Linked DNA regions of Homo sapiens: region 1 is linked to region 2. Evidence: fine-mapped expression QTL. A gene starts in region 2. The other region holds a variant in brackets. All regions are shown on one strand. Distances are from middle to middle.

Region 1 (15,763 bases), 59 kb after region 2:
CACCTATGATTCTATTGTACAGCCAGGGTTGGTTCTGTGATTTTAGATCATTATAACTGCCCTGGGCCAGGTAGTTTGGGAGAAACCTCCCGCACTTTTTAACTAGAGCAAAAGGGGATCACCCACACAAGAGCTGCTGCTCATGCATGCAAAGTGCTCCAGTCAATCACCTCAGTGTTCAAGGCTCAGACCTGGCCTCTAGAAGATGGAGCTACTTGGCCTTTCACAGAGCATGAGCCCCCTCCATCCCTGCCATCTATCCATCTACTCCAGCTGGCTTAATGCCCTCTTGAGACTCCATTTTCCCTTCAAAGCTTCCTCTGGTGAGCATGTCAATGATATGTAAACTATATAAAGATGTCAGTGTGTATGTGTAGAAATAGTGTGACTTGCTCCAGGCAGACATCTCCTAATAACACCTGTCGGTATACCTTGGGCAGGATAAGACACTGACATCAGCTGCTTAAAGGCAGCAAACTGCAGATCCCGAATCCTGAAATGTGGAGGAGAAATGCTCCCCACTCTGGTGGTCCCAGTGATGGCAGCAAAACTTGACCAATAGGGGGCTGCCCCTTTTGGTAAATGGTCTTTCTACTCCACCCTGAGACACAGCGAGAAAGATCTTGTTACAAATTCTACTCCACTTCTTAGTAAGTTAAGCTAGTCACTTAAGCTCGTTTTCCCTTTATTTCCTCACTTCTAAAATAGAGATAACATAATCTTCCTTGTTTACCATAACAGGGTTATTGTGGGGATCAAATGAGAAAATGAATGTGATCATGCCCTATAAACACAAAGGCATTATTATGTACCATGATTATCCTAGTGTTTTATAGAAGGGAGCAGTAAAGGCATAGACTCACTTGGTGGGAAACTGGATGAGCCTCCTGGAGTCTGAGTGGGTGTGAGGAATGACATCATTGCAGTCTCCAGAAACTGGACTTGCTGTTTCCATGACTTGAGTAATATCATAATCATGATGATAAGGATATCTACAAAGAATTGTACACTTAGGTCTAGACACTGTAATAAATTGTACATCTATTTTTTTCTGAGCTTACAGAGGAGGGCACTGAGGCTTAGAGAGGTTAACTACCTTGTCCAGAGTCACACAGCCAGTAACTGGACTTGGGTCTTGACATACCAAAGTCCTGCTCCAGAACCCACAGCAATAACCAAATGAGCCTTCTCCTACAAGGGAATGACTCTCAGCTCAGTATTTTAATAAATGACTTAGGTGCTTTTTGCAGGTATTCTCAATCTCAAAGCAGGCAAAGCTCTGCTAGGAGACAGGTGCTTTGTTCTAGAATTTTCTGTGCTATCTGAATATGACAGAGGGTGTTTATGATTGAGTTTTCCATGCAGATGTTTTTCCTTAGCTTCTAAAAACAAACCTAGTGAAATAAGAGTAGGGTTATCAGGTAGGTTGCAGAACCTAGGGTGATCTGCCTTGTAGAGTTTGTGGTTAATATTCATTTGTTGAACCTTCATGCCCACCAGCCTGTATATTAGGCACAAAGAGTAGACCAAAAACATAGTCATGTACCTGCTACTACAGTGCTTGTACCAAATGCCTACATACTGTGGCTGGGGAGGTTAGAAGACTGATAAGCAAATAATATGGTAGACAAAGAACTAATGTCCTTAATATATACATAGAGCTCACAAAAATGCCTAAGAAGAATGCTTTCACCATTGTGTTGTTGTTATATAAAGTCACAGTTTATCTTTTTGAAGAGAATGAGTTTATAGAAAGGCAGATTAGGAATGCAATCTTTCCCATGTGACATCCTTTCTTTATATGTATTTTTATTGTCAGAAAAATAATTTCATGGGCAAAGGGTTTCAAAATATGAGTTCTCATTTTGAGAAGGGAAAATGCGAAGTTGCTACAAAAAAACTTATCTTTAAGAAAGAATTCAGATTTATAAATGCATTCAGCCACTCTGACTAGAGGTGAGGTTGTAGAATGGGGGTGTCTTATCTGTTGCACTCCCTGGCCTGAAATACCATTTCAGTGCTCAACTCCTGGCTTCCCTGAGTAATTCCAGCCCCCATTTGAGAGGTTTGATTTCATAGGACTGTGGAGAGTCTCTTTCAGGAAAACAAAGATCGAGCAATGCTGATCACAAGCTGCTGGAGCTGGATCCCCTCTAAGGGGCATGCCCAGGGAGTCTCATAGCCCTGCCAGTTTGACAGCAAAATGGTACAGACAGGAAACCTGCACTCTCTCTTGCTCAGGCTGATCCTGGTTAATGTCCAATGTTCCTTTGAGAAGGATCAAGGACTCTGGGTCTACTGGCAGCCTGAACTGCCTCCTGCAGCTCTCTTTGCTCCCGTCATCCTCGGTCTGTTTAACCAACTTCCCAGAAACCATCCATTGATCTTCCAGTACGTTGGTCAGTGGAGATGAGATTGAGTCAGATGAGGAACCCATCCTTGAGGAACTCGTGATCAAGTTGTCCCTCTGTTTGATCAGTCTTTCAAGTGTCCTTGCCTTCTAGCTTCTTTTCTTCTACATTCCCAGAGCAATGTGGCCCTGGAGAATGATTCATTTAGTACCAGCTACTGCATTGTGTGGTGAGAAGGGAGAGGATATAGGAAAAATGCTTCTGTAATAGCTGCTATGATGCCATTGGTGTTGTTGGCAGTCACCACCCTCCTTCCTAACTCTACTGGCAGGCTGTGGAGGCAGGCTGTGATGTCCAGCTGCAGATTTCTGATACTGTCAAAAGTGCTCACATCCCACAGCCCCTTGAGCTGTATTATTCCTTGGAGAAGAGTTCCACACAGCTCCACTCAGGGCTCCAACTCCAAGCCGTGGGTTGGACAAAGAAGACAGGGGAGGTGATCTAATCACCAACACACATCTCTCTGCAGTACATTTATAGAAGACTCGTAAAGTTACTCACTTTGAGAAATTAGATGCTGTGTAGATGTTGTCTCCAAATGCTAACATTATGTAAGGACATGACATTGCTTTCTTCACAAGGAAGAGGAAAAGCAATTTTCCTTGCTTGGCTCAGGTTGATCATGTGAGAAGAGCACAGAAAAAATCAACTATTAAATAGTGGGAAACTACGTCCATCACCACTGAGGGAGATGGCGTTTTGAATATAATGAAAATGGAACTGATCAGTGAAGAAGCTCTCGGGCTCTGTCTAGATTGTGTTTTAGCAGGCCTTACCCCTGAAAACTATTTTATTTTTAATCTTCATCACACGAATACCCTTTCCCTTGAGTGAGTAGCATCATCAACTGCTTGGGCATTTCCCCAGATCGAGTCAGGCTTAGCTGGATGGGCATAAACACTGTGGACATGACTAAGCTTAATTCCATTACATGAATTGCTTGCAAAAAATAGACGAATCCCCTTAGGACCTGAATAAGGAGTTTCCCAAAGTTGTGAGGCCCTGAGTGGACCTCTCCCTGCTATGTTTTCCTCAGAGCGCTGATCTGGGACCTGAGAAACAGGGTGCACCTGTTAATGTGGTTTCTCCTCCCTGCCCCACTAAGTCACAGAGCCTGACATGCTGTTGCTCTAGTAGCTACTCTGCCACTCTCAGTCATCACACTTCTGACATGTCACTTGTCACTGGTACTGATGAGTGCTTCAGATTCAGTAGCAAGCATGGCAGGGCCAGTGGCAGGAGGATGGAGGTTGTGGACCATCATGTGCGTGGACCATGGTATGATCTGTCTTCACCACTAAACTGGAAAATGAAGAAGATGATGATGGAAATTTTCCTGTGGATATGAGATGGGTGGGGACACAGACGGAGCCCTTTTGGACCAAGGACATGGAAGCAAGAAGGAAGGCCTGTCCTTCCACAGGCATTCTTGCCATGACTCCATGGATTCATCTCTCCCTAGGAATGCTGTCATGATTTCCAAGATCCTTCGCATCCTAGGAGTGATCAGCAAAACTACTCAGACCTGTCTGCCCTGAAGAGCATCCACTATGAACCTCCAGACCCATCAGTCTAGGAGGGCTATTGACTCCTTAGAAGCAGTGCAAAGTAGGAGAGCACATCGGCACTCTCCAGGTGCATCTCTTGCTGGAGAAATAATCATGACTTCCCAGATCTATTCCCCCCTCCCTCCCTCAGGAAGACCTATCTTAACTCTCCAGCAGAGACATCTCCATCCAGCAGGACCTTCCATGATTTTCCAGGTTGGCTTCCAATATCTATCACTTTCTACCCAGAATAAAAATGAGCAAGATATGAAAAAGAGCCTCCAGCAAGTCTTTTCCACATTGGAAGAGCCAGGAACCTCTCATTTGTTCCAAAAAGCAGCAAATAGAAATACAATTCAGACCTCTCTCCACCATGAAAAAAAAGCAAACAAAATCCCATTCTGAAAGTAAGAAGTAGCATGCCTTCCAAGCCTCTTTCCCCAGCCATAGCAAACTTCAGATAAGCTCTTTGTCTAGAAGTCACACTCTGGATCTCCTTACCACCAGAGTGGGTACAGGAAGTCCTCTGACTCAGATCCGTCTCTCTGTGGAATAGACCTTGGCCAAGGAGCTCTGATTCTGGAGACGGGGGAGCAGCTCTTCTGATTCCAATCTGACCCTGCTCCAGATGGGTCAAGTTCCTGCAGATAAGGCTAAGTACTTGCTTTCCTGGGCCCAAACTGACATGCAGTGAAAACCTTAGGAGCTTAGGTGAGCCAAAGAAACCACAGAGTTTGAAGTTGAATTCCAAATGCCAAAGCCATATTTTAGTAACTTTAAACTGGATTATTTAGACCAAAGGAGAAATGCAGAGAAGATGAGGAGTCCCCCCAGTGGGGAAAGGGGCTGGCACAGAGCCAGCCAGAACAATAGAGTATGGAGGTGCCGAAGCCCCTGGATGGCTGTGTGGATGAACACTTGCACTGAATGCTCAGAGGACAGGAGAGAGGAATCCCATGGCCAAATTGATTGAGAAGAATTAGCCTAAGGAGATCAGAGATAAGAAAGTGAGGACTCACTGCAGTGGTCTGGCACCTCCTTCCAACGGATTCAATATCTGGCTGGGACACCGCAAGGATGGAGAGAACAGATCCAGTGTGTTTGACCCAAGGCAATTTGCAGGCGTGCAAGCAAGAAGACAGTCACTGTTGTGACTGAACGTATGAGCATGGGGGATGGACCTTCAGCTGCTACATCTATCTTGACTAACAATCAGGGCTTACCCAGATCAGCAGCAACTTGTTGGGCACCAACTTTGGTCCTAGGAGGATTTGGGGCTGGAAATTCTAATTAGGGGCACCATGAACTTCTCAGCTATTCTAATATAGAGGAAACACTGGTTTTTCAGTACCCTGAGGACATCTAGAGTTTATTCTGCTTAGAGTTTTTCTCTATTTTACTTTTCTTTCTGTAGCTGAACATATCCATATTTATTAGAAAAAGTGCAAAGCCCCTTAATTTGTACTTCTAGCATTAATAAGCGGGTAGAGGCAAGACCAGAACTGGGGAGTGTTCTCTTCCTTAGACAGCAATCAGCAGCTCAGACAGCATCTCTGGCAGTTGGCTGTAAAGACCACTGACATCAACAAGATCCCACATTTTATGAGCAATAACTTGGGTTCAAAAAATGCAAGTTTATAGCAAGAAGGTGAGTTACGTAACACATACTCAAGGAAAAAAGCAAACAAAATTGGTCAAAGATAAGCCAAAAGGAATACATCCCAGCCAATGCCGGACAAGATGGAGATGAAGAAGAATCTCTTTGGGCTATAAAATGACTAAGCAGAGAAATTTGGAGGCGAATGGCAGAGCCTCCTCCTCTTCCAGATTGACTGTTTAGAGGTTGACAGGGGCATCATGCCCTGCCATTGCTTCATTTCTGCTTAGAGACAGTATTAAAAGTTCCTGGACAGGTGCCAAAAGTACCGTTGACATGCAATGAGTCTCACAAGACCATCACCTTCAGGGTGTTGAGCAGAGAAGCTGACCAGGCAAGTTTCAAACACACTGGAACAGTTTCTCTCCACTTCCACTTCAAGAGGGTGGCACCACCACCAGACCTCCTGGCATGAAGAGGCTCCACTCCTACTGAGAAATAGTTTTCCTCCTTGGCCATCACTGCCTTACATTTTTGCCGCCACCCTCACATGTGGTCCTACACCCTCAGAGCCCTGAGCTACTCTTACTCTGTTGTGTCTGCAGCTCTCTGGTTCTAATCCTGGCACCAGGAATCCACCACCAACTTCCGGGGTCTACTACCAATTTCTAGTGTTTGCCTTTCATTGCTGATTTTCATATCCAGGCCCAGAAGTTCACCCACCAACCATTGCAATTTGCCCCCAGGTCCCAGGGGTCCAGCAGCTTCTGGATTCACCCCAGCCTCTTAGGTTGCACCCAGTGACCCAAGAGTACACACTGATTCTCAACTCCCCATTCCTCCTCTTTTTCCAAATGAAAAGCTCTACCCTTTTCCCCCTCAAGCTTTATTTTTTCTTCTAATTTCCCATCTTTTTCTCCATAGGGAAGTTTTGGTGATTTTGTATAGGGGCCTGTACTGTCCCCAGAGTTGATTAAATAGATTCTACCCCCCACCCCATGATATGAATACACTGTTGCAACAAAAACTATACTAAGCTGCTAAATGAAAGAGCCCTGTACTCTACTGTTTTGTAATAAACTACAGTTACAGCCCTGCAGAGAAACATTAATACAAACAAGGAATAAGTTTCAAATAAGAAAGAGGAGAATAAAGAGGAGAAATGATTAAAGGGAAACTGAGCAATGAAGCAAACTTTTGTCTATCCATGCAAATTCTCCTGCTCCCAGTACCTTGTGAGTTGTAGATGACGCTCCTCAGCAGGTTAGGCTGAGAATAAAGGGCCCAATTCAGATGACTCCTCTGCTCTGGTGAGTTACCTCCTCTGTTTCTTAAAAGGAGAAAACTAGAGCTTTCTCTGATGTGACACCAAACTTATGTTTATTTTTTAAAATTGAAATTCTAACCCTTATATTT[G/T]TGTGAAACCCATGGTTTGTGAAACATTTTTAAAAACAATTTTAAGAAGCCATAAAACATGGCTGCATGTGGGAAACTATGATAGCTAATAACCGTAGCAGCTGCCAACTACTTGGCTGTAAAGGACTCGAACTCCAGCGTTTTTTTGTTTGTTTGTTTGTTGGCTGATTTTACTTGCCTATTAAACACTCAGCCTATTAAAAACTTAGCGTTGCTCATGAAACTTGAGAAAGCAGATTACACTGCTAATTTTCCCTGATGTAGTTGTGTGAAATAAATTTGAATTAAATGAATCTCTGGCATTTTTCTGAACCCACACAAAAAGAAATGCATTTTTTTGGTGGCTGTTTTCTTCTTCTTCTCTCTCTCTCTTTTGTTTTGTTTTATTTTGGTGCCTCTAGGAGCTGGGGCCTCAATGATGAACAAGATCCAGGCATTGGCCTTAAAGAGCCCACAGGCTGGTGTTCAAGATCCAGGCAAACCCCTCCTTCCTTGACAAGGGTCAGCTTTGAGCAAAGATGGGTAAGTGGATGTGTAAACAGCCAACTTAGGTATATGGAGCAAGAAGGCAAAGAGCTGGAGAACTGCCACTCAGAATACAAGTTGATGCACAGAAAATATATCAGCAGAATCCAGAGCACCAGGAAGCTGAATCAGCAGAGCTGGCCGATAGTGAGATGACTCACCCCATTCCATGCAGGGGAAATGCATCTGTCTTCTTCGTATCCTCTCTCCCTGCACATATGACACTGAGCAGAAACTCTTCATGTGTTTGCCTCTGGCCCTGGGCTGTGTCTTAGTTATCTTTCTATCCCACTTCCTGACATTACCATCTACCACACTTTCTGGTGCGGAGCGAGGCTTAATAAATAATAGTTGTATTAAACAAGCATTCAAGAAGAAATGTCCTCACTAAGTGGGAGGTTGAACTAGAATAGCTCCCAAATTCTGTTCTACTTGGAGATTCTATGATTATGTAGACAGTCTGGCATGGGATAGGTGCCCACTAAATATTGATTCAGATGATGCCTGCTTAGTTTTGCAGTTATTTGTGCCCATGTTTTATCTCCCCATATAATCAGCTTACTTTTTTCTGCAACCGTATTAATTATTTACGAAGCACATTAGTAATCAGTTTGCATGCATTGTCTTCCTTGATTTCACATAACCCTAGGAGCTAGTGATTTAGTTTCTATTGCTGCATAACAAACCACTCCATAACTTAATGGCTTAAAACAACCATTTATTATTATCTGTCTTGGTTTGTATACTAACTGGGCTCAGTTTATTCCCATTCTTTTTGGGGTCCCAGATGTGGGCTGGTGCTGCAGTCTTCAGAAGGCCCAAAGGTGCTGGATGTCAGGAGAGCTCACTCGGTGGGCAGTTGATGCTTGCTGTTGGCTGGGACTGTTAGCCAGAGCACCTACACATGGCTTTCCAAGTGTTCAGGCTTCTCACAGTATGGTGGCTGGGTTGGAAGAGGGAACATCCCAAAAGACTCACACAGAATGACTTAGCTTGTATGAACTAGCCTTGGAAGTCCCAGACCATCACTTTTGCCACATTCCAATGCCCAAGTAAGTCCCTGAGGCCAGCCCAGATGCAAAAGAAGGGGAATTAGATTTCATCTGTTGATGGAGGAATGGCAAGGTCATTTCTGAAGAGCAGCTGAGATGGAAAGTATTTTGTAGGCATTTATGGAAAATGCCATCTGCCACAGTAGTTACTATTAATATCTCTTTCTACACAGGAGAAAATTTCACAATGACCTAGCTAAGTTATATGATTAACCTGCTTGTTCAAGATCAGCCAGATCCAGATGTCATCTAATTTAGTAACCATTGTACTTCACTTAGGATAGTGTTCTAAAACTTTAATAAGGAAGGAGTCACCCCTTTCAAAAATGCAGTATTAGTATCAAGAATATGAAAACATAAATTCTAGTAAAATTTATAAAGTAGAAATATAAATTCTAGTAACACTTGGGATGCCATGTTCAATAAATATTACTGAAGGAGGAGCTAACATCTGCTGCACTGCTTCAGTGGTCCAGGCACTCATACACTATATATAAACTCACTTAATCCTCACAGTTATCTTTTCCCCCCAGATGAAAGTGAACTTTAGAGGGATTAAATGCCTTGCCCCAAACCAAGTAACCACTTAGCGACAGAGCCAGGGTTTGAACACAGTCATGTCTCAGTCCACATTCCATGTGCTTTCCACTGAGCTCCATGTTACAGGTTGGGCTCCCCAGGAATCAGTCTCTGAGATGACAGTAGCATGCAGGAAGTTAGCAAAAAAGTGCTCAAGGGGAACACACGTGGGGAAGGGGAAAACTCAGGATTAGGCAAAGGAGAAGGTGGGCAGGTAGAACTAGAGCCAAGCAAATGCCAGCCAGCCTTTTTGGAGGGTTTGGGTGGATAACGGACAATGTCAAAAACAGCATTAATTTTCAATCCTGGGTGGTGGAAAGACTATATATATGTATGTATATATGTATGTATGTATGTATGTGTATGTGTGTATGTATGTGTGTATGTATGTGTGTGTATGTATGTATGTATGTATGTATATGTATGTGTGTATGTGTGTGTGTGTATGTATGTATGTATGTGTGTATGTATGTATGTGTAATTTCTCTATGTCAGACACTGCTGGGTTTGTGCTCCCCTCTATAATCTACTGATTGTGGGACTTCACACGAGGTACAAAACATAAGTGACCTAATAAGCCCTCTAGACAGGGCTTCAGGGAGGAGCCAAGGCTGGCACATAGTCAGAGGGCAGGAAAAGTTCCACTCCCTCCGTGTGATTAGGAGGGCTGCTTTGTTTTCTTCCCAGGCAGAGACCTCAAAGAAAAGTGTGACTTGTGGCAATCATTGGAATGCTCTAACGGGAGGGAGCCCTAAGCTAAGGGGAGGGGCTGTATCAGCCCCGGGAGGGCGAGGGACAAAGGGGCATTGTTTCCCTGGAGGGCAGGCTGGGGCAAGGCTGACTCCACTGCCGGCCTGGGCGTGGGCAGGTTTGCTCCCGGGAGGAGAAGGCCTCCATCCTGGCCCACAATAGCCAACCCAAAACAGTTCTGGCAAAATTAAAAGACGCAGGAAAATGCCAGCGACCGTTTATTTTCTCCTAGGGTAGATGGGGGAGAAAGCAGCTCCTTTTTCTGGGCTGAATGGAGTCTCAGGGAGGGGGCTAGGTGACAGCATCGCCCTTTCCTCTCCGGCTATTGCGCACCTTCTGGAGCCTCGCTCAGCCTGCTCCCTCCGGCGTAATACGCCAATGCTGCTACCCACAACGCACAGACCAGAAACCAGGATAGACAGAAGCCTAGAATGGCCTGGCATCGAGCAGGCCCAGCGCAAACGCAAGGTCTCTTCCTCTCCTTTCGGTGAACCCCACGCCCAGTCCCGAGAGAGAGAGCGGATGCTCATTTCCGAAAGCTGGCAATCCTGCAGTGGCCACTGGAAAAATACATATACGTGTGTGTGTGTGTGTGTGTGTGTGTGTGTGTGTGTGTGCGCGCGCGCGCACACAGTGCATATCGTGCCCATCTACAAGGAAACCTGGAGGCTCCACAAACAACTTTGAGTCCCGGGAGGGCGGAGGTGGAGAGAGATTCTCCGCTTGGATAAGGGCGGCTGGATAGCCGAGTACTCTCTTTTGGGGCTGTTGGCCGTCTCCGGAGTCTCGGGAGCGCCTTGATGTCCCTTCCCAGGGCTCGGGTTCCTTTGAGAGAATCAAGAGGAAGGTGTTTTTCACTAGGACTCGCGGTGGGCCCCACCTGCCTACCGTGGCCGGCCGGGAGCTATTACAGCAGGGTCTGCCCGTCCGACGACGGCGGCTCCAATCTGGGGTCCCGCCGGCGCCGACCCCTCAGCTCTCTCCCGATACCTGCTGGCCTCTCTCATCTTTGGTGGCACTCGCCGCCACGGGGACGGTGAGATCAAAGAGGTAGACCTAGGCCAGGAGGGACTGCCAGGGCTCCTTCCCGCGGGCCAGCCTCTCGTCCTTCCTCCCGGGACGGGGCTCTTTCCCTTTCTCCGGATGCGGGCCTTTGAGAGTCAGCGACGCCTTAGACTCCTCCCAGAAAAATGCACCCTCATCTACCCAATTCTGCCCTACCCTTTGGAGCTCCTGGACCCTCTAACCGCTCGGTGGGGTCAGAGCCCACCCCCGGAAGGGCCGCTGGTCGGGGACTGGTTCGCCCTCTCCTGGCCTCCTCGGACCAGTGCGCGGGGAGGATCCCGCTAACGCCGGGCGCCTGCAGACCTTGAGCGGCCTCGCCCTGGTGACCTCCCCGGGAAAGGCTGGGCGGTGCTTCCACAATGAGGGCCACCTGTTAATTTGCACGAGAAAGTGCTGCCGAGGGCCCACACGTGCGAATCCACCTGTGGAGTGCGTCCCCTCTCTGGGGCCAAGGCCTAGGGGAGGCCGAAGCGGAGAAGTTGCCTGAAGACTGGGAAGTAAGAGTAGGGGCGTCGGAGGAATCGAAGTTGCAGTGACATCAGGCTCGGACAGCCGGCGGACTCCTCGCAAGGTGATCGGATACTTCCGAGAGCCCCACAGTCCTCCTGGGCCTTTGCCCTCGCGTCTGGGATGCGCTCGGGCGCCCCCAGTCTGCGATGCGTTCGTACCTCCAGTAGGGTGACGTTTTCGCCGGGCCCCTCTGCGAACAGTCTCCGCCCTCCTCCACTGTGAGATATTTCACAGTTTCACCCGCAGAGGGCAACCTTATTCCAAGTTCCCGAGCGCCCTAGGCCTCTTTCTCCTCCCTGCCTAACTGGTGAGGTGGGACTTCAATGCCTTTTAGGTTTACAGTCTTTTCCTCCCCACGGCTTCTCTTTCCTCCCCGTCTCAGGCACTGGGCATTTCCAGTCGATCCAGCAGGTCTGGCTTCTCTCACATATGCAGTAAGGGTTAGGGGAGAAGGTCCCAGCTCCTCTTGTCTCTAGCAGAGTGTAAACTGGCTCTGCTGAGGAGGTGGCTGTGCTTTTATTCCTTCTCCTGAGAACTGTTTATATATTAAGGAGCTTCACAGCCTCCAACATAAGGAAAGCAGGTAGGAACTGATCATATAACGCTTTGTAAATGTTTTAGACTTTGGCTTTAATGGGAAAGAAATGGGGAGCCATTCGTGGGTTTTTGAGCAGCAGGTGGACATTGCTTTTCATAATGACCACGCCAGCTGCTGTTTGGAGAATAGACTGTAGGGGTCACTGCGCAAATTGGAGGCCGCGATCCAGGTGAGAACCAGGTGAAACAGAGCTCGGGCCATGGAGTGGCGCTGGAGGTAAGGAGAAACACTCAGACTCTGGGTATGTTTTTTGAAAGTAGGATAAAAGGCCGGGCGCGGTGGCTCACGCCTGTAATCCCAGCACTTTGGGAGGCCAAGGTGAGCGGATCAAGAGGTCAGGAGATCGAGACCATCCTGGCTAACACGGTGAAACCCCGTCTCTACTAAAAAAAAAAAAAAAAAAAAATTAGCAGGGAGTGGTGGCAGGTGCCCGTAGTCCCAGCTACTCGGGAGGCTGTGGCAGGAGAATGGTGTGAACCTGGGAGGCAGAGCTTGCAGTGAGCCGAGATGGCGCCACGGCACTCCAGCCTGGGCGACAGAGCGAGACTCTGTCTCAGTCAATCAATCAATCAATAAAAATACAAAACATTAGCTGGGTGTGATGGTGTGCACCCTTAATCCCACCTACTCGGGAGGCTGAGGCAAGAGAATAGCGTGAACCCAGGAGGCAGAGGTTTCAGTGAGCCGAGATTGCGCCATTGCACTCCAACCGGGGCGAAGATTTACATATATATAAGATTTTCTGTCTGATTGTTTTTTTGGGTATGAGAAAAAGACAGGAATCAGGGATGACTCCAAGCAGCTGGAAAAACGGAGATGCTGCTGGCTGAGATTGGAAGATGCTGGGGTAGAGGGATAAGACAGCTTAATGTTATATATTTTAGGTTTGAGGTGTTCATTAGAAAAACAAGTGGAGAGATTGATTGGGCAGACACACAGGTCTGGAGAGGGCTGGGCTGGAGATAGAAATATGGGTTGCCATGATACAGGCATGGGACTGAAAGCCCCATCAGTCCCTTGGAGAGATCATCAGAGAGTGAGTAGAGACATAGCAGGGCGAAGCCCTGAGCCCCGGTTCCCCCAGCATGTACCTGCAGTCTGTTTCCTCTTCTCAACTACAATTCCCATGGTCTTGTCTTGTTCACAGAACCTGCTCAAGGAGCATCTATTAAATGAAGGAACCCAACTTTCATCACATGTAAAATAAACATCATTATAATCCTACCTCATAAGGTTGTTGTCAGAAAAAGTTAAACGTCGTAATGAAAGTGAAACTGCGTTATGATTGGTAGATGCCTGCTATATTTTAAAATGTAGGCTTCATTATCTCATTCTGTACAGCTTGTATTACTTGATTGTATCTTCACAGTTTCTGATGCATGCAAGGCAGACACTCTCGTTCTCACTTTATTGACGAGGAAAGTAGGATTGGTGAGACAAAATAAGTCCCTGAAGCTGCATATCTAATGGTAACACCAGTGGCTGACCTGTTTGAGCACATCTGCGGCAGGCACTGTGTTAATGATTTTGCATGTGTTATCTGGCAACAACACAGCGAGGTGGGGGTTATTATCTTCACTTGCACATGAGGAAACTGAAGCATAGAGAGGGTGGTTAACTTAGCCAAGGTCCCATAGTGAGTGGTTGGAAGAGTCTGGGCCATGAAGCAGACCTGCCCATCCTGATTCAATGTTCTTTTTGCAGCCTGATAGCTCCTCTTCTTCATCCCCCTACTAGACTCCTGCCAGGGCCAAGCCTCACCACTCCTTCCCTTGACATTGGCAACATTCCTCTCTCCTTAACGTTTCTCTCCTACCAAGCCTGCTTGCTGCAGGATACAAGAGTTCAGTCACTCCTTGGGAACAACCTGCAGGTCAAAACATTTTGGCTTATTGCTTCCCCTTTCTGGAAAGTCCTTTCCCTTCCTCTCTGCCTTATGAACTCCTATGTGTTCTTCCAAACCCTGGTGAACTCCTATGTGGTTTTCCAAGTCCAATTAATATGTCACCTCTGTTGTGAAGCTTTCCCTGCTTGCACCAGACAAGAGGCATGACTTAGATCATGTGACACTTTGTTTATAGGTCTATCAAAACAAACTGACAATTTCCTGTGGGTTTGACTGATGCCCCTGTAATATTGTGATTTTTCTCTCAGGTTCTTATATTTTCATGTCTTTTTATCCAACATGCTGTTTGCTTCGTGAATACATAAATGAATGACCCATTTACAATCACTATCAAAGCAAATTTATGGATATCAAATATTCTTCTAGAGATGAGGAAATAGGCTAAAAGGAGTGATTTGCCTAAAGTCACTCAACTGATTAAATACTGGAGCTTTGCTGGGTATGATTATGCGTGCCTATAATCCCAGCTACTCAGGAAGCTAAGGTGGGGGCAGAGGGGGTGGGTGGCAATGACCGCTTGAGCTCAACAGTTTGAAGCCAGTCTGGCTAGCATAGTGAGACTCTGCCTCAAATAAATAAACATAAATAAATAACATAAATATTGCAGCATGAACTCAAGAGAGGTGAGGAGATTTTGTCTGGTGAAACTCAAGATTTCACATGCCTATTGCTTCCCTCTCTGGCATCTAGGGTCCTGGAACCCTCCTCCAAATGCTCCTGCAGGTGGCAACAGAGGCCAAGGAAAGGTGAAGCATTCTGGCAGAAGTTCTGGAGACAGATGAGAAGCTGAGCTCCCTGAGGGCAGGGGCAAGGTGACTTGAAGAAAGCCAGGCCAGAGGGAGCATTTTATGCATCCATCATTTGTAATCCAGAAAGAAAAGGTTTAGACAATTTTAGTGTAACCATTAGTCATAAAATTGACACTGAAGAAAGGAAAAAGCAATTGAAATAAAAGGACAGTAAATAACAAACTATCTTACAGGAAAAGCTACACCATGTGCCCCAAGACACCGAGCTAGAAAGTAGCAGGGGTAGTCAGTATCAGGGCCCATCGCCTCATGTTATCTGCACAGGGGGTCTCTGTCTGATGTTTGGGCACAGAGAAACAAAGTCCAGGTATAGTGCATTAGACAGGACCCAGAGGGTGTTTATGCGTGGACTGATGGCCACCTCGAGGGTCAGAGCTTCTGGCTTATTGTGTCTCCAACTCTGTCCTAATACACATTTTTACCAATGGCTTGCTGGAAAAACAGAGGAAAGGCCCGTGAATTTGCCAAGGAGAGGAAGCTCTGAGTGTTCGCGAGTGCCCATGTGGAGAACAGGGAATTGTACAAGTTCGAGCTGTGTGGGCCAATAGGGAAATGGAACAAAGGGACATTTTACCTTTGTGTTCAAAATAATTAGACAAGGACAGCATGGAAGAGACACGGCTTTAGTAATAGTGTGTGTTGAAAAGAATGGGGCTGGGACATTTATTACAACAACCGACATTTGTGCAGCATTTATGAGGCATTTTCATTACTCCTTATGACACATTAGAAGTGGTAATGGGGAAACCAAGGCTGGGAGTATCTTGTGTAATTAAGCAGCAGAGCTGTAGTGTGAATTGTGTCTCTGTAACCCTGGGGTTACTTCTCTTCTTTTGTTCCCCATCTCTAACCAAGCTGCATGCTCCGCTCGTTCTTTTTTTGTGAATGTCTCTCACCTCCAATGCAGCCATCCATCCTGTTAAAGGAGTGGATTATCCATGTCTTTCTGAGACTATTGTACAACCTCCTCATTTAATCTCATTTCTCTTTCCTCCCAT
Region 2 (12,889 bases):
TAAATGACCCATTTGGGTTGGGAAGTTGCCCCAAGCCATGGAGACTAACTTAAATAATCTCACTCTACTTCTGGCACTGGTAGAAAAGGTAAAACACCTGGGGTCTTCTGAGTCATGTGTCCAAAGTTTTTAATTCAGGTGACTTGTTCTGGGCTTGTTAGTCAGGCAGATCCTCTGCCAAAGGAATGCCCTCCTATGCCCAGGCCCATAAGTGGCTGTTTCTAATGGCACCATCCAAGTCCTCTGTGTGTCCTGGGGTCGCAGTGGACCTCTATGTCTGACCTGGGGTCAAATATTGTAGGAGTTGTGCAGAGTATGTCATATTGCCCTGGGAGAGCTGAACACATGGGAAGAAAGAAAGGCTTACACTCTTCAGTCTTCTCCCTCCCCTCCTCTCCTCCCTCCCCTGAATAATAGAGAGCCAAGCATTTGACAGAGCTCCTTGTTCAATGCTTCCATGTCTCTGCTAGTGATCAAATGTTTCTCCCTCAATATTCTCTTTATACAAGATGATGTGACGTGAGTTTGTTGCTAATATTAGATTTGCAACAGATGCCCTCATTGTTGGGTCCTGGGTACATGCAGAGCAGATTAATAATCCAAAGACAAAGGCCTCAAATGCCCAGTGACTTTAATAACAAAACTTGCTGCAAGGGACAAGGGCTCACTCTGCACTGGGCAAGGTGAGGGGGACGGGCCTGCAAAAGGCCCAGAAACTGAGTCCACCATCTAGATGCCATTGGAAACGTAGGCGGAGCTGTTGGTGGGAGGTGGAAGGAAGCACCAGGAAGAGGCATCTTCAAGGGGTCACAAGCAATAATATTCAGGTCTATGGTGAAAATGACAAGTCATCTAGTCACTGCTGGTGGCCAAAATTTGGACCCAGGGGAACCAGGTAGCAAGCCTAAGAATTCAATAGATATGTCAATGGACATAGACGGTTCCTTCTGCTCCTTTTCATTTTTCTTAATAAAGCCTTTTTAGACAAATCGTAAACCTCCATGGTTACAAACCAAGAACCTCCTGGGTCTAACTAAGCATGAACCACTAGGATTTTCTGCTCCCCTCCTGCTTCATCTTCAGAATACTGTCATCTCACCTCTACAAGGGAAGGTGTTTCTTAATATCTACCAATGTGCTTTTTTTTTCTAATTTTACTTAGTTGCCTGAACCTTATGGAAGTTAACATTGCAAACCACGAAAGAGAATGTGTCTATCTCTCTTTGTCGCCTCCTACACATAGGCATTTTCTTAAGGAGTGTTCCTCTGCCCACAATGATCCCACTGCTATTGCATTGGAAAACTGCCTGAGACTTAATCAAAGTCAATGGATCAAGGGTATTTTGGTCTTAGGGAGTTGTACTGGAAAGGTTCTGTGCTTCAGAGGTCCTATCTTGATTTGGAATTGAATTGTCAGGTTGCATCCTGAAGCTAACCAGTTTATAAACTGAATTTACTCTTTCTGAAATTATAAACCAGAGCCCTAAAATACTTGTCTTGTAAGTTCCAGATTTTCATAATTCTGTTTTCTCTAAGTGAAACTCTGCCCATCTACTTATAGAGATGAAAGAAAGGACTAGCATTTATTGAGTTTTGCTATAGGTTAGATGCTTCATATTGGTTATCTCATTTAATTCTCATGTCAATAATACAAAATAGGTATTACTATTCCCATTTTACAGATGAGGAATTTGAGGCTCAGAGAGCTCAAATAGCTTGTAAGTGGCCGAGCTCAAATTTAAACCAAAACCTCCTGATGCCAAGACCTGTGGTTTTTCCATTTGTCTGTCTTTTTGTTTGGGAGTCTTTTATAATTCCCTGATGCTGTTACATGTCAACTAAGACAGACACATACAGACTTAGAGATGGGACTAAATGTTTTCCCTATTTTTTTCTACCAATTAAAATAAATAGCAATTGTTTTAACTCATAAGTAATTACAATGAAATTGTTACTTAGGCAGGTGTATTTCTGAAATAAATGTATAAAGTTCTGTGTTGAAAATAGAGATGACCTGGTGGTAAGCTGAGATTGTGGGTTCCAGGATGGCTGAGACCATGTTTTATACCCTCTGTGGCCCCAGCAATCTGCACTGAGCCTGGCCTGTGGGGTCCACTCGGTATTTGCTGAATGAAGGAATAAGTTTCTCCTCTATCCACATCCATATTGATGTGAAGTCTGATATTAGTTTTTTCTATTTAATGTGGTAAAAGACCCAAAACATCAAACTAATCATCCTAACCATTTTTTAAATGTTAAGTATATTCACATTGTTGTGAAAAAGATCTCAAGAACTTTTTCATCTTGCAAATTTCAATTTCTATACCCATTAAACAACAACTGCTATTATTTTTAAACATCATCCACATTTAGCTTTACTAGAAAGAAGACAGCTCTGCCCACATTTCAGGTAAACATGACTCAACCTCCTGCTGCTTATGCATCAGCAACTCTCTTGACTCAGTAAAACACTGTCTGCCACCCACACATGGGTTCAGCCAGGCAGGCTCTCTTTGATTTGGTCATTGTTAGAAAAAAAAATCAGGCATTCTAACCCCAATAGGAACTACTCCTCAGCTTCCTCACCTCTCCTGGTAATCCAAACTGTATTAGCTTCCTAATCATTTGGCAATTCCTTATATGTGCTAGAGAGACAAGAGAGGAGAGCCAAAGAAGTAGCTCTAGGGGTCTAGAAATTAATTGTTATTCTAGTTTGTGAATGATGTTTCAACATATCTCATAATTAAGTATGATTTTCCACCATTCCCATTGTCTTTCCAGAGCTTCTCCGCCTAAATTATACTTCTCTGCAACACAACACACAGTACTTCCCTTATCAGAGCATTTCTCATGCTGTATTGTAATTGCTTGTCTGTCTGTCCTCCGTACCATACTTCAAGTTCTGTGATGCCAAGGTCTGTGTCAGTCTTGCACTGTAATGAAGATGGGTATAGCATGAACTCAATGTTACAGAACTCACTAGCTGCATGAAGATTTCTCTGCTTTGCTCTGCCCTAGTCTAGGGCAAAGCCACTTGCAAATAATTAGCTAGCTTGTGTTTTCTCTTCTGGTTGCCCACATGACACTGAGAGGTGCTGGCCTGAGTGCCAGGAGAGCAGGAACTAGGCTAAACTTTGCTTCCCTTAAATACCCAGCATCTAGTGCCATTGCTGGCTCATGGTAGATGTTCAAAAAACATTCTGAGGATGAATGAATGAATTAGAGCAATGAAGACCCAAATGAAGTTTCATAAAGAAAGTTTCTTTCATTCATCTACTCACTCACTGTATTAGATGCTTACTCTATAGTAGGCACTATGTTCATGACTAAGGGGAAAGGTAGCAGTTACGAAACGGGGTTACTGGCTTAATAGGCATAATTAGAAGGGGCTCTTAACCTCATAGAGGGGAGGAGGGAGTAAAGTTGAGGACATGCTTGTCAGGAAGGTGAGTGATTGAGGAAGTGATGGTCAGCTAGACTATTGGGAAAAAAAAAAAAGCTAGATGAAATGAGTGAAGGGATGAGAATGGGTGGTGAGAATTCCAGGACAAGGGAAGTAGTTTATGATGCAAAGTTTCAAAGACTAGAGAGAGCATCAGGCTGAGTTCAGTGGCTCAAATCTGTAATCCCAGCACTTTGGAAGGCCAAGGCAGATGGATCGCTTGAGCTCAGGAGTTCCAGACCAGCCTGGGCAATATAGCAAAACCCTGTCTTTACAAACAATACAAAAATTAGCTGATGTGGTGGCACACGCTTGTAGCTGCAGCTACTAAGGAGGGTGAGGTGAGATGATCAATTGAACCCATGACATTGAGGCTGCAGTGAGTTGTGACTGCACCATTGCACTCCAGCCTGGGTGACAGAGAGACCCTGTCTCAAAAACAAAACAAAAGAGAGAACACTGTGCATTCATGGAAATATAAGAAGCTGAGCGTGTGGGCAAGGTGGGAGTGGAGAGAGATGAGGCCTGAGAGGGAAAGGCCAGGTCTCTGGGGTCATGGAAGTCAGCTAGTATGTCAGGCTGCATCCCAAGGTAAATGGAGAGTGATTAAGTGCTGTAAGGGTAGGGTGACATCATCAGATTTATGTTAGGAAGTCATCCCAGCTGGAGAGTGGATTAGAAGGGATGACGGGATAAAAACTGGGCATGACAAATGAGGATGGCTTGGTCAAAGGTGTGATGGTAGAGATGCAATTATCATCAGAGCAGTGAGGCAGGGGAAAGAAGTGTCTAGTTGGGCTCATATTTTTAAATAACTTTGGACAGAACCAACCAAGCCACAGAAGTGCATGTCAAATGTTTTATTCCACATCAACCATTACTTTTCATCCTCAAGCCTTTGCTGAAGGCTATGGAACCCAGCTTTGGCTGGGTCTGAGTGCAGAGACCTAAGAGGATCTGGTTTGAAACCTCTTTCCCTGTGAGAAGAGAGTCAGTGACCAAATGTAGAGACAGCAGTGAATTATTGATGGACCTACATGTTTTACACATACAGATGCTGCTAAAGACAGTTTTCCCCTAAAATCAGCAGTTAGCAAATGTTTTAATTAGATCAAGGCATTCCTACCTTGTAGGTTGTTCCAGAATCTTGGGGTGAGAACATTTGTAATTTGCAAAAGTAATATTTTATCTGTGGAAGGCAAGCACATGGAAGAAAAATCTATTGTCTTGTACTATAAACTAAAGAAAATAAACAAAATCATCCTGGCTGTGGGATGTACAAATGTTCAGTGTTATATGTGTGTCAGTCACTGATAGAGGGCTGGGGAAAAAACTAAAGTCTGCCACAGGGACTGAGTGGCAGAGATATTTATGCTTATCAGAGGTGGCGGGCAGGCATCAAGAAATTTTGAGAAAGTGAATTAAAGTCTTATAAATACTTTAGTCATAAAGGCCAATGATGATTGTATTATACTTTCTGCATTTGTTAAAATACAACATAATCATATTTGGCATCTAATCACTCCAGATTTTGTGGTAGCCACTGGGATCCACCAACCACCTTTGTCCCTAGGAGCACATGATTTAATAAAGAAGACAGATACAGGGACTATTAACACTCTACCATGATAAGTATCATAACAGATAAATGTTTAAAGAACTCAGAGAAGAGAGGGATGGATTTCTAGTTGTTCAACTGTGTTTATATATCTTTATGGTAGACATCATAAGTCAACATTGGGGAACCCTATATTCAACCTTATAAAATAATGTAAATATTTTTAAAATCCTGTAAAACCTATAATCCTCCCAGCATCCCAGGAGCAGCATTGTCCCTGTGGGAGGACTTGATTGAAGCCTACAAGGATGAGATGACTGAGATACTAGTACCAGATGATCAGGGTCATCATCCAGATCAAAGGGGACTTCAAGTCTAGCCTCTTCTGTGACATCACACTAAATGTGTCCCCTCCTTTTTTTAAAAAAACTAAGATACAAACTTTGGTTTCATTTCTGGGACCAAACATAGTCAACATTTTCCGGAATTAAAACCTGTAAGAAATTTGTTCTTAAGTTCCAATGTATAATCTCTTGAAGAGCTTCCTTCTTTATGGGCTCACCTTACAGATGCGCTGTGAGTTAAAAGAAAAGGCCAGGCTTGGGAAGCAGAGAGACCTGTTTCAAATCTGTCTTAGGACTCACTGGCTGTGCCAGCTTAGGCCAGAATCAACAGGCTCTGGTCTCAGTCCCTGTAGTGGCACACTGGGGAAACAGATGACATCGTAAGATGAGCACAGGCCCTGGCCCTGGGTAGCTGCCTTGACCCTATCTCTGCTGCCACCATCCTACCATCCTGGTCCAAGCTACCATCTCTTATCTGGATTGTGGCAATTATGGGGTGTTTTTCTTTTCTTTTCCTTTTCTTTTTTGAGACAAAGTCTGGCTCTGTTGCCCAGGCTGGAATGCAGTGGCACAATTTTGGCTCACTGCAACCTCCGCCTCCTGGGTTCAAGCGATTCTCCTGCCTCAGCCTCCCAAGCAGCTGGGATTACAGGTGCCCGCCACCACACCCAGCTAATTTTTTTGTGTTTTTAGTAGAGACGGGTTTCACCAAGTTGGCCAGGCTGGTCTCAAACTCCCGACCTCAGGTGATCCGCCTGCCTCAGCCTCCCAAAGTGCTGGGGTTACAGGTGTGAGCCACCCATTTATTCTGTGCCACTTCAATCTACCAGTCTCTTCCCTGATAGCAAAAAGAATCGAGTCACCACCTTTAAAAGATGAAAATCCTCAACATGATTTACAATATTTTTTCCAAACTGCAGGTCATGAGCCATTAGTGGCTCATAGAAACAATTTAGTGGGTCAACACCAGCACTTTTTTAAAAAAGTGAAGTAGAACAGAAATATGAAATTGCAATGCCAATCATAAGCATAAGAATTATTTCATCAAACTTTTCTCATTATGGGCCTTCTCAAAAAGTGTTTGAAGGCCTCTGGCCTATAATAACCTGAGTAATATGACCCCTGCCTCCTCCTTTAGCCCCACTTCCCATCATCCCCCACGCGGTTCTCCGCGCTTTACCCACACTAGCCTTCCTTAAATTCCTCCAATACATCATGTTCCCTTCTGTGGGAGACCACTTAGCACATGGTTTTCCTCCTTGCCTAGTTAATGTCATCCTCCAGGTCTCAGCTCAGATGCCACTTCTTCAGGCAAACCTTCCCGGATTACATCCTGAACCCCTGTAGCTGTCAGGGTCTCACAGATCTGTGTTCAGTTTTTAGTTATCCCTTTAATAGCATGTTTCCTCGGTTAATGACAAACTTTCCCACTAGGCTGTCTTTGTGACCGCAGGAGCCCTGCTCTTGTTTACCCCTGTGGTAATCCAGTGCCTATCTCAGGCTGGCACCTAGGCATTCAGAGGGATAAATGAAGGAAAGAATTGGCCAACCTGTTGACCAATGACGTTGGCTGGCCTCCTTCCTTGCTTGGTATCGGTTTTGTTTCTAACACTTGCACCAAGAAAACCACACAGGGTTATACTGTCTGCCTAGTTTAGGAACTTCCTTTAACAGTATTTCTTTACTCTCTGAGTTTCTGGTGAGCTAAAAAAACATAACAAAAAACAAAAAACTCCATCAAAATTGTATGCGTGTGCTGGTCGTTGAGTACTTCGGTGGAGAGTGGGAGACGCATCTTCATGAAATTTCAGAGGGGAACTCTGCCCATCCACTCCGAACCAGCCGCAGCTCCACGAGCATCTCACGCCACCCCTCTGCATCACCAGGGCGGCCGTGGGGCGCGCGCGATCAGCAGGCTTCTTGGCGCCCAGTCCATGCGACTATCTCTTCCCAGCCCCGGGACTAGGCCCGCCCCACTCGGATTCTCCACTCTTGGTAGCGCGCGTCCCCCGGACTGCTGAGACCAGGCGGCGCGGAGGCAGGTGACCCGCGTCTCCAGTCCCGGGCGCAGCCCAGGGTACGTTGTCAGCATCGCGGAGCGCGGCCCTGGGCCTCTGCAGCCATCTTCAGGGAGGGAGGCGCGGCCTCCCGACGCGGACCCGCCCCCGCCGCCCGGGCCGCCCCGCCCGGCTCCGCAGAGCGCCGCGCCTAGGTTGCGACTTCCCTTCCCTACCCTGCTCGGCTGCGTAGTGCGCTCCCCGCCCAGCCTGCAGAGCTCGCGCCGCGGCAGCCCAGCCGCTCGGCCCCGCCGCGCTCGCAGAGGCCGCCATGGGCACCGCGCGCTGGCTCGCGCTGGGCAGCCTCTTCGCCCTGGCTGGGCTGCTGGAAGGCCGGCTCGTGGGCGAGGAGGAAGCCGGCTTTGGCGAATGTGACAAGTTCTTCTACGCCGGGACCCCGCCTGCGGGGCTGGCGGCCGATTCCCACGTGAAGATCTGTCAGCGCGCGGAGGGTGCTGAGCGCTTCGCCACCCTCTACAGCACCCGGGACCGCATCCCCGTGTACTCCGCGTTCCGCGCCCCGCGCCCTGCGCCCGGCGGCGCCGAGCAGCGATGGCTGGTGGAGCCGCAGGTAAGCGAAGTGGTTCCCGAGCCGGGCTGCGGGCGCCGGAGACCGTGCCGCTGGACATGCCCCCAGTTGCAGCTACCGCGAGGGGCGGGCCGGGAACAGCAATCCCTACGCCTTCGGTGCCTTGGGCCAAGAAACCCGGGTTCCAGGTCCACCCTGTTGCGTCCCCGGAGTTAGCCTGCCTCGCCCCTGTCGAGCTACAATAAGAGCCTGGCGATCTGCGAGCCTTCACTTCATGAGCTGCAGGGCGGGAGGTCCCCTGTGGGAGGAGGTTCTCCCTGCATTTCTGAGCAGACATCCGCAGTGTTTCATTCCTGAATGGTGAAGAGCTTGATACAGAGACCCTGGAGACCGTTCAGATCCGCAGAAAGCCTAGGCTGGGCGCTCACAGGCCTTCGTGCAACTTATTGCCATAGCACTCATTTGGAGGTGGGTAGGTGGGCATTTTCATCCCCATTTTACAGAAGAGGAGATAAACCCAGGGGGTGAAGAGACATATGGAAGACTACCCAGTTAGTAAGATGGGGCAGGTCTCTGTCTAGAAATTCACTGCCTTTTCTACTAAGTAAAGCTTCTCTTCTGCAGAGCTCATCCTAGCCTGAAAATCCTTCCTCTACCACGGCGTTGAGTAAATTCGATCTGCGGTTGTGTTGAATTAGAACAATGAAATAAAGATACAGATTTTTAGAAACGCAATGGGGTAGTTAAAAATGATAGGGAAACATTGACTACCTCCAACTGATGGAAAGATAAGCCAGTTTTTCCTGACTCCTCATATCTATATTATCATACCACTAGGAAATCGTGTCACCTCTCATGGTGTTCTGTCCCGTCTGGTAAAGGTGACCAAACACTTGAGAAGCCCTCAGAGTCTTCCGAACCTGCTGGCCTGCTCTTAATACCTCTCCTCAGTTGGCCTCCTCTCTAGAACACCCTGCCAGACTCCCCTTTGCCCTCTCACCAGCCTCCCACCCCTGCCCAGGCTGCTGGGGGAAGAACTGACCCAACGCTCTCCCTTTCCTGACGGCCACAGCTGCCCAGGACCACACCAGTGGACAGGAGGCTGGCTTTCAGGTGCTTTATTCAGAGCCTGTGGGTTGTAATCTCATTCAGATATTTCTAGCTCTGAGGTCTTGGCCAGGTCTCAAACAATCTGCACCTAGTTTTCTTATCTTCCTCACATCCTTCCACCTACCTCAACTGTTGATAACACTTGTCGAGATCAGGCATGTGAAAAAGACGTTGTCAGTTGCACACACAAGACACATTTAAATCCAAAATTAGTTTTCCACCAGCTGCACCCCTAGAGCTCACAGGGTGTTCCCCACCTCTCATCTTGCATTGTGATTGTGTGCCTGCGAAGAAAACAAATGAGCTAGTTCTTTCCCCTTGATCTCATGGACAGCTTGGGGAGACAGAACATACGTCTGAGGAAATCATGGGAATGGATGCTAAACAAATTTCAGTTAAATTCAGAACACATTTAGTGACTCCTGCTGTGTGCCAGATATTTGGGACCAAGAGATCTGAGTGCAGTTCTGGAACAAAGGCTACCTGATCTGCAGGTGGAGTTTGCTGGGTGGAGAGGTGGTGTAGTATCTGATTAGAGCCATGCTATGTGGGTTCATATCCTAGTTGCTCCACTGACTAGCTATGAACTTGGGCAGGTTAAATTGGAGATAATAGCATAGGGTGGTGTGAAGATTTAATGAGTTACCATATATAAAGTTCTCAGGTGTGTGACACATGAGTACTAAGTACTAGCTGTTGCTATGACCTAAGCAAAAAACCATAATTTAATAAAGGTGAACAAAGTCCTATTAGATTTAATCTGTCTTTGAGGTGATGGAAGCAAGCCTTAGGGTCAGGATGACATTTCTGCTGTGTGTGGAAAGATAAGGCAGAGTTTAGAAGGGAGGCAAGGAGGAGGACATTTCAAGCAGAGGGAACAAACATCATGAGTGAGAAAGGCATGGCAGATTCAGGGATTTGTGCGTGAAGAAGTTGGAACAGGTAAACTAATACAAATAGATGAATGCACTCAATTGCTCAGAATAAAAAGGAATCATGGAAGGGAGGGATCAGGTGGGGAGGAGCCACCAAGGAAGGCTTAGGGAGGCAGAGCCATTTATGCAGCTAGGGAAGGAGTGAGTCGTAAAGGAGCATAGTTTGACAGAAAGAAGTACAGGGAACCAGGTAACATGGAGACCCTGGGTGAGATAATGAGGAAGGGGACTGTGGAGATTAAAGAAGATGGGAAGGGAGGGTGGAAATAGTTACAAATGGCAGCTTGAGAGGTAAGATGTACAGCGGTTCTGAAGAGTACAAGGGGCCTGAGTTCCTGCTGTGCTGAGAGGTCAGAATGGTCACTGTGGCTGAGCACTGCAGGATGCTTTTCCCTGCAAGGTGGCTGGCCTCCCACATCCACCCGCTCGACCTCAAGTCAAGTCAGCCAGGATCCAGAGAGTATTGGGAGAGAGGGAGGGAGGAGGAGGTGTGAGGTGCAGCTGGGCCTGGAGTGCACTGCAGCAAACCTGCCCCCACTGTTGCCTGCTCCCTGAGGCCCTGCCTCCCAGCCAAGATCCCCACTGCAGAAAGATGCTCAGGGCTCAATGTGTACCCTTGGCGGCTTCCAAGCATTTTATAATGCTGAGTCTCCTTGTACCCACATCACCTTTTTATGAGGTCAGTGTTACCAAGAGGACCCGCACACAGGGGAGGAAGAGGCAGGAGACCAAAGGAACTCAGTGCTTGCCTCCAGTGATGAGTCAGGCAGGGCAGCAGTGACACTGAATTCCCAAAGCCCAGTTCGGCAGCTTTTGAGTCCACACTGCAGTTTCCCTTTGAAAAGAATCTCCTAAGTCAAAGATCACAGAAACTTAGTCACTCTTGTGCTGAAAATCTGTAAAGTGTTGCCTGCCCAGCCCCTACAGGACAAAGTTCACACTGCAGAATGCAGTTTACAGGCTCTCCATAGCCTAGCTCCTGTCTCCAGCTCCAATCTAGTTTCTCACCATGCTCCACCCTCATATTTTATGTTCTAGCATTATCCAGCTGCCTGGAGTTCCTCTCATAAACCAGACTGTTTGTGATGTCTGTTTCTTAGCTCATGCTGATTCCCTTTGCCCAAATTCCCTTTCTACACAGACCCCATCTTATCCTTCACTTCCTGCCCTTACTCCATCCTTTAAGACTCTGCTGAGGTGTCACCTCCTCCAGAAAGAATTCCCCACCTGAACTGTATCCACCTCCCAAGTTAGGTTCACCCCTTCAGTGCTCTTATAGTTTTTCTATTTTCATACTTACCATGTTGTTTTGTAATTATCTGCTTATGTATCTGTCTCCCCAACTTGAGCCCTTGAGGAATGATGATTGCATCTTACTCATTCTTTTCCTAGTGCCCAGCTTATAGAAAGCACGCGATAAGTGTTGAATAAAATAATTTGATGTTGGGAGGATCAATCAGGCAGGAGCAGGTGAGATGTTCTGCTTCAGTTTTCTCAGTGGGGCGCTTCCTGTTTCAGAAGCTTGCACCAGGGCTGGCCAGCAGCAACTGTTACAAACATGCTCCCTATGCAGAGCTGGAACCCTGCTCTGCAGCCACTCCATCAGTCTTAGCTTTGGCCTTTGAAACTATCCCAAATGATTTTGATCTCTGCTCTGCCTACAGGAGATGGTTTGGAGGAGTTCTAGTCAAGACTCCAGAAACCTGAGAACTGGATTCTGGTTTAGTGCAGGAAGCCTCAAACCTTTTAGTTTGTTGACTCCTTTCCACTTAATGGAAGAATTTTTAGATAAGATGCCAATGATACCTTTCTAAAGTGCATTGCTGATTTATGCCAGAAGCCAACATATAAAGCTCTATCATTTTATAAACATGGAAGGAACTGAATATATAAATTATATAATTAATATATTATACATATTAATTATATAATATATAATTTATATATTCAGTAACAATAGTGTATATTTGTTCAATCTTAAAAAATACTGTGAGGTAGATATTATCTTCATTGTAGAAAGGAGGAAACTGGCTAAGGGAGGTTAACTGAGGTGTTTTAGGGTCACACAGCTTATTTTTGAACTCATTACTGATTACTCTTCTGATACACTGTGGAGATTCTTTGATCTCACAATGGATCCACTGCGCTAATGGTCTTAGGACTCTAATTTTCATCTTTTATGTGAGAATTCTAATTTCTACTCCACTTCTATTTTCTGACAGTCATAGGACAAGTGGGAGCACTTACTTGGCTGCATAAAGGTTGCTCAAGTGTCACTTTACTCTGGAATGAAGGGGATATTCTGGTTAACTGCAAAAACATTTTCCTGGAGGGCACAGTGAGGTCTTACTTCAGATCTTAGTAAATGCAAATGGTTGTTTCAAGTTAGAACCTTGATTAAGTCCTTGATTTTTAATTTCCATCCATGGCTTATACAACCTGAAACAGAAATACTGTTCAATTTGTTCCAACCTCAGCCTTCTTTTCATTGTGTCAGAGAACAGATATATAGAGCATCATACACTTAAATCTCTGTGTAAGGAATGCAGTGAACAGGACAATCCTGATTCTTACTCCTTAATTAAGAGACTTAATTCAGATCCCTGCTCTTCCATTTACAAGCTATGTGACTTCCAGCCCCATTTTTTGGATCTGTTCATTAAAGGTTGTAAAAGTGTTTATAGAGAGGTTGTGACAAATAAACAAGATAACACATGAGAGCATGTGGCATGGTACCTGGAATATGGTAAACTCTTAGTAAATATTAATATGTATATAAGGTGTTACTTCAGTAGGTGCTAGGCGTGTGCACGCACACACACACACACACACACACACACAAATGGAATGTTGGATTAGATAGGTGACATCTACAATTCTGCAAATCTCTCCTAAAAAGTAAAATATCTATCCA

What was found.
Region 1: its variant is fine-mapped to the expression of ENDOD1 in whole blood (INTERVAL, PIP above 0.99).

What each region holds. Positions count from the first base shown.
Region 1 is chr11:95,139,990-95,155,752 of GRCh38, forward strand. It overlaps LNCRNA-IUR (lncRNA imatinib upregulated), which reads left to right and starts at 10,550. Exons shown (of 3, transcript NR_110303.1): 1 at 10,550-11,759. It also overlaps the pseudogene BUD13P1. RefSeq lists a cis regulatory region at 7,320-7,950, enhancers at 10,336-10,877, 10,878-11,419, 11,020-11,149 and a silencer at 11,670-11,779. The variant G/T (reference allele first, on the strand shown) is at 6,972.
Region 2 is chr11:95,082,256-95,095,144 of GRCh38, forward strand. ENDOD1 (endonuclease domain containing 1) reads left to right here and starts at 7,591. Exons shown (of 2, transcript NM_015036.3): 1 at 7,591-7,972. The coding sequence starts at 7,673. RefSeq lists enhancers at 6,993-7,272, 7,343-7,402, 10,670-10,964 and silencers at 7,413-7,842, 10,670-10,964.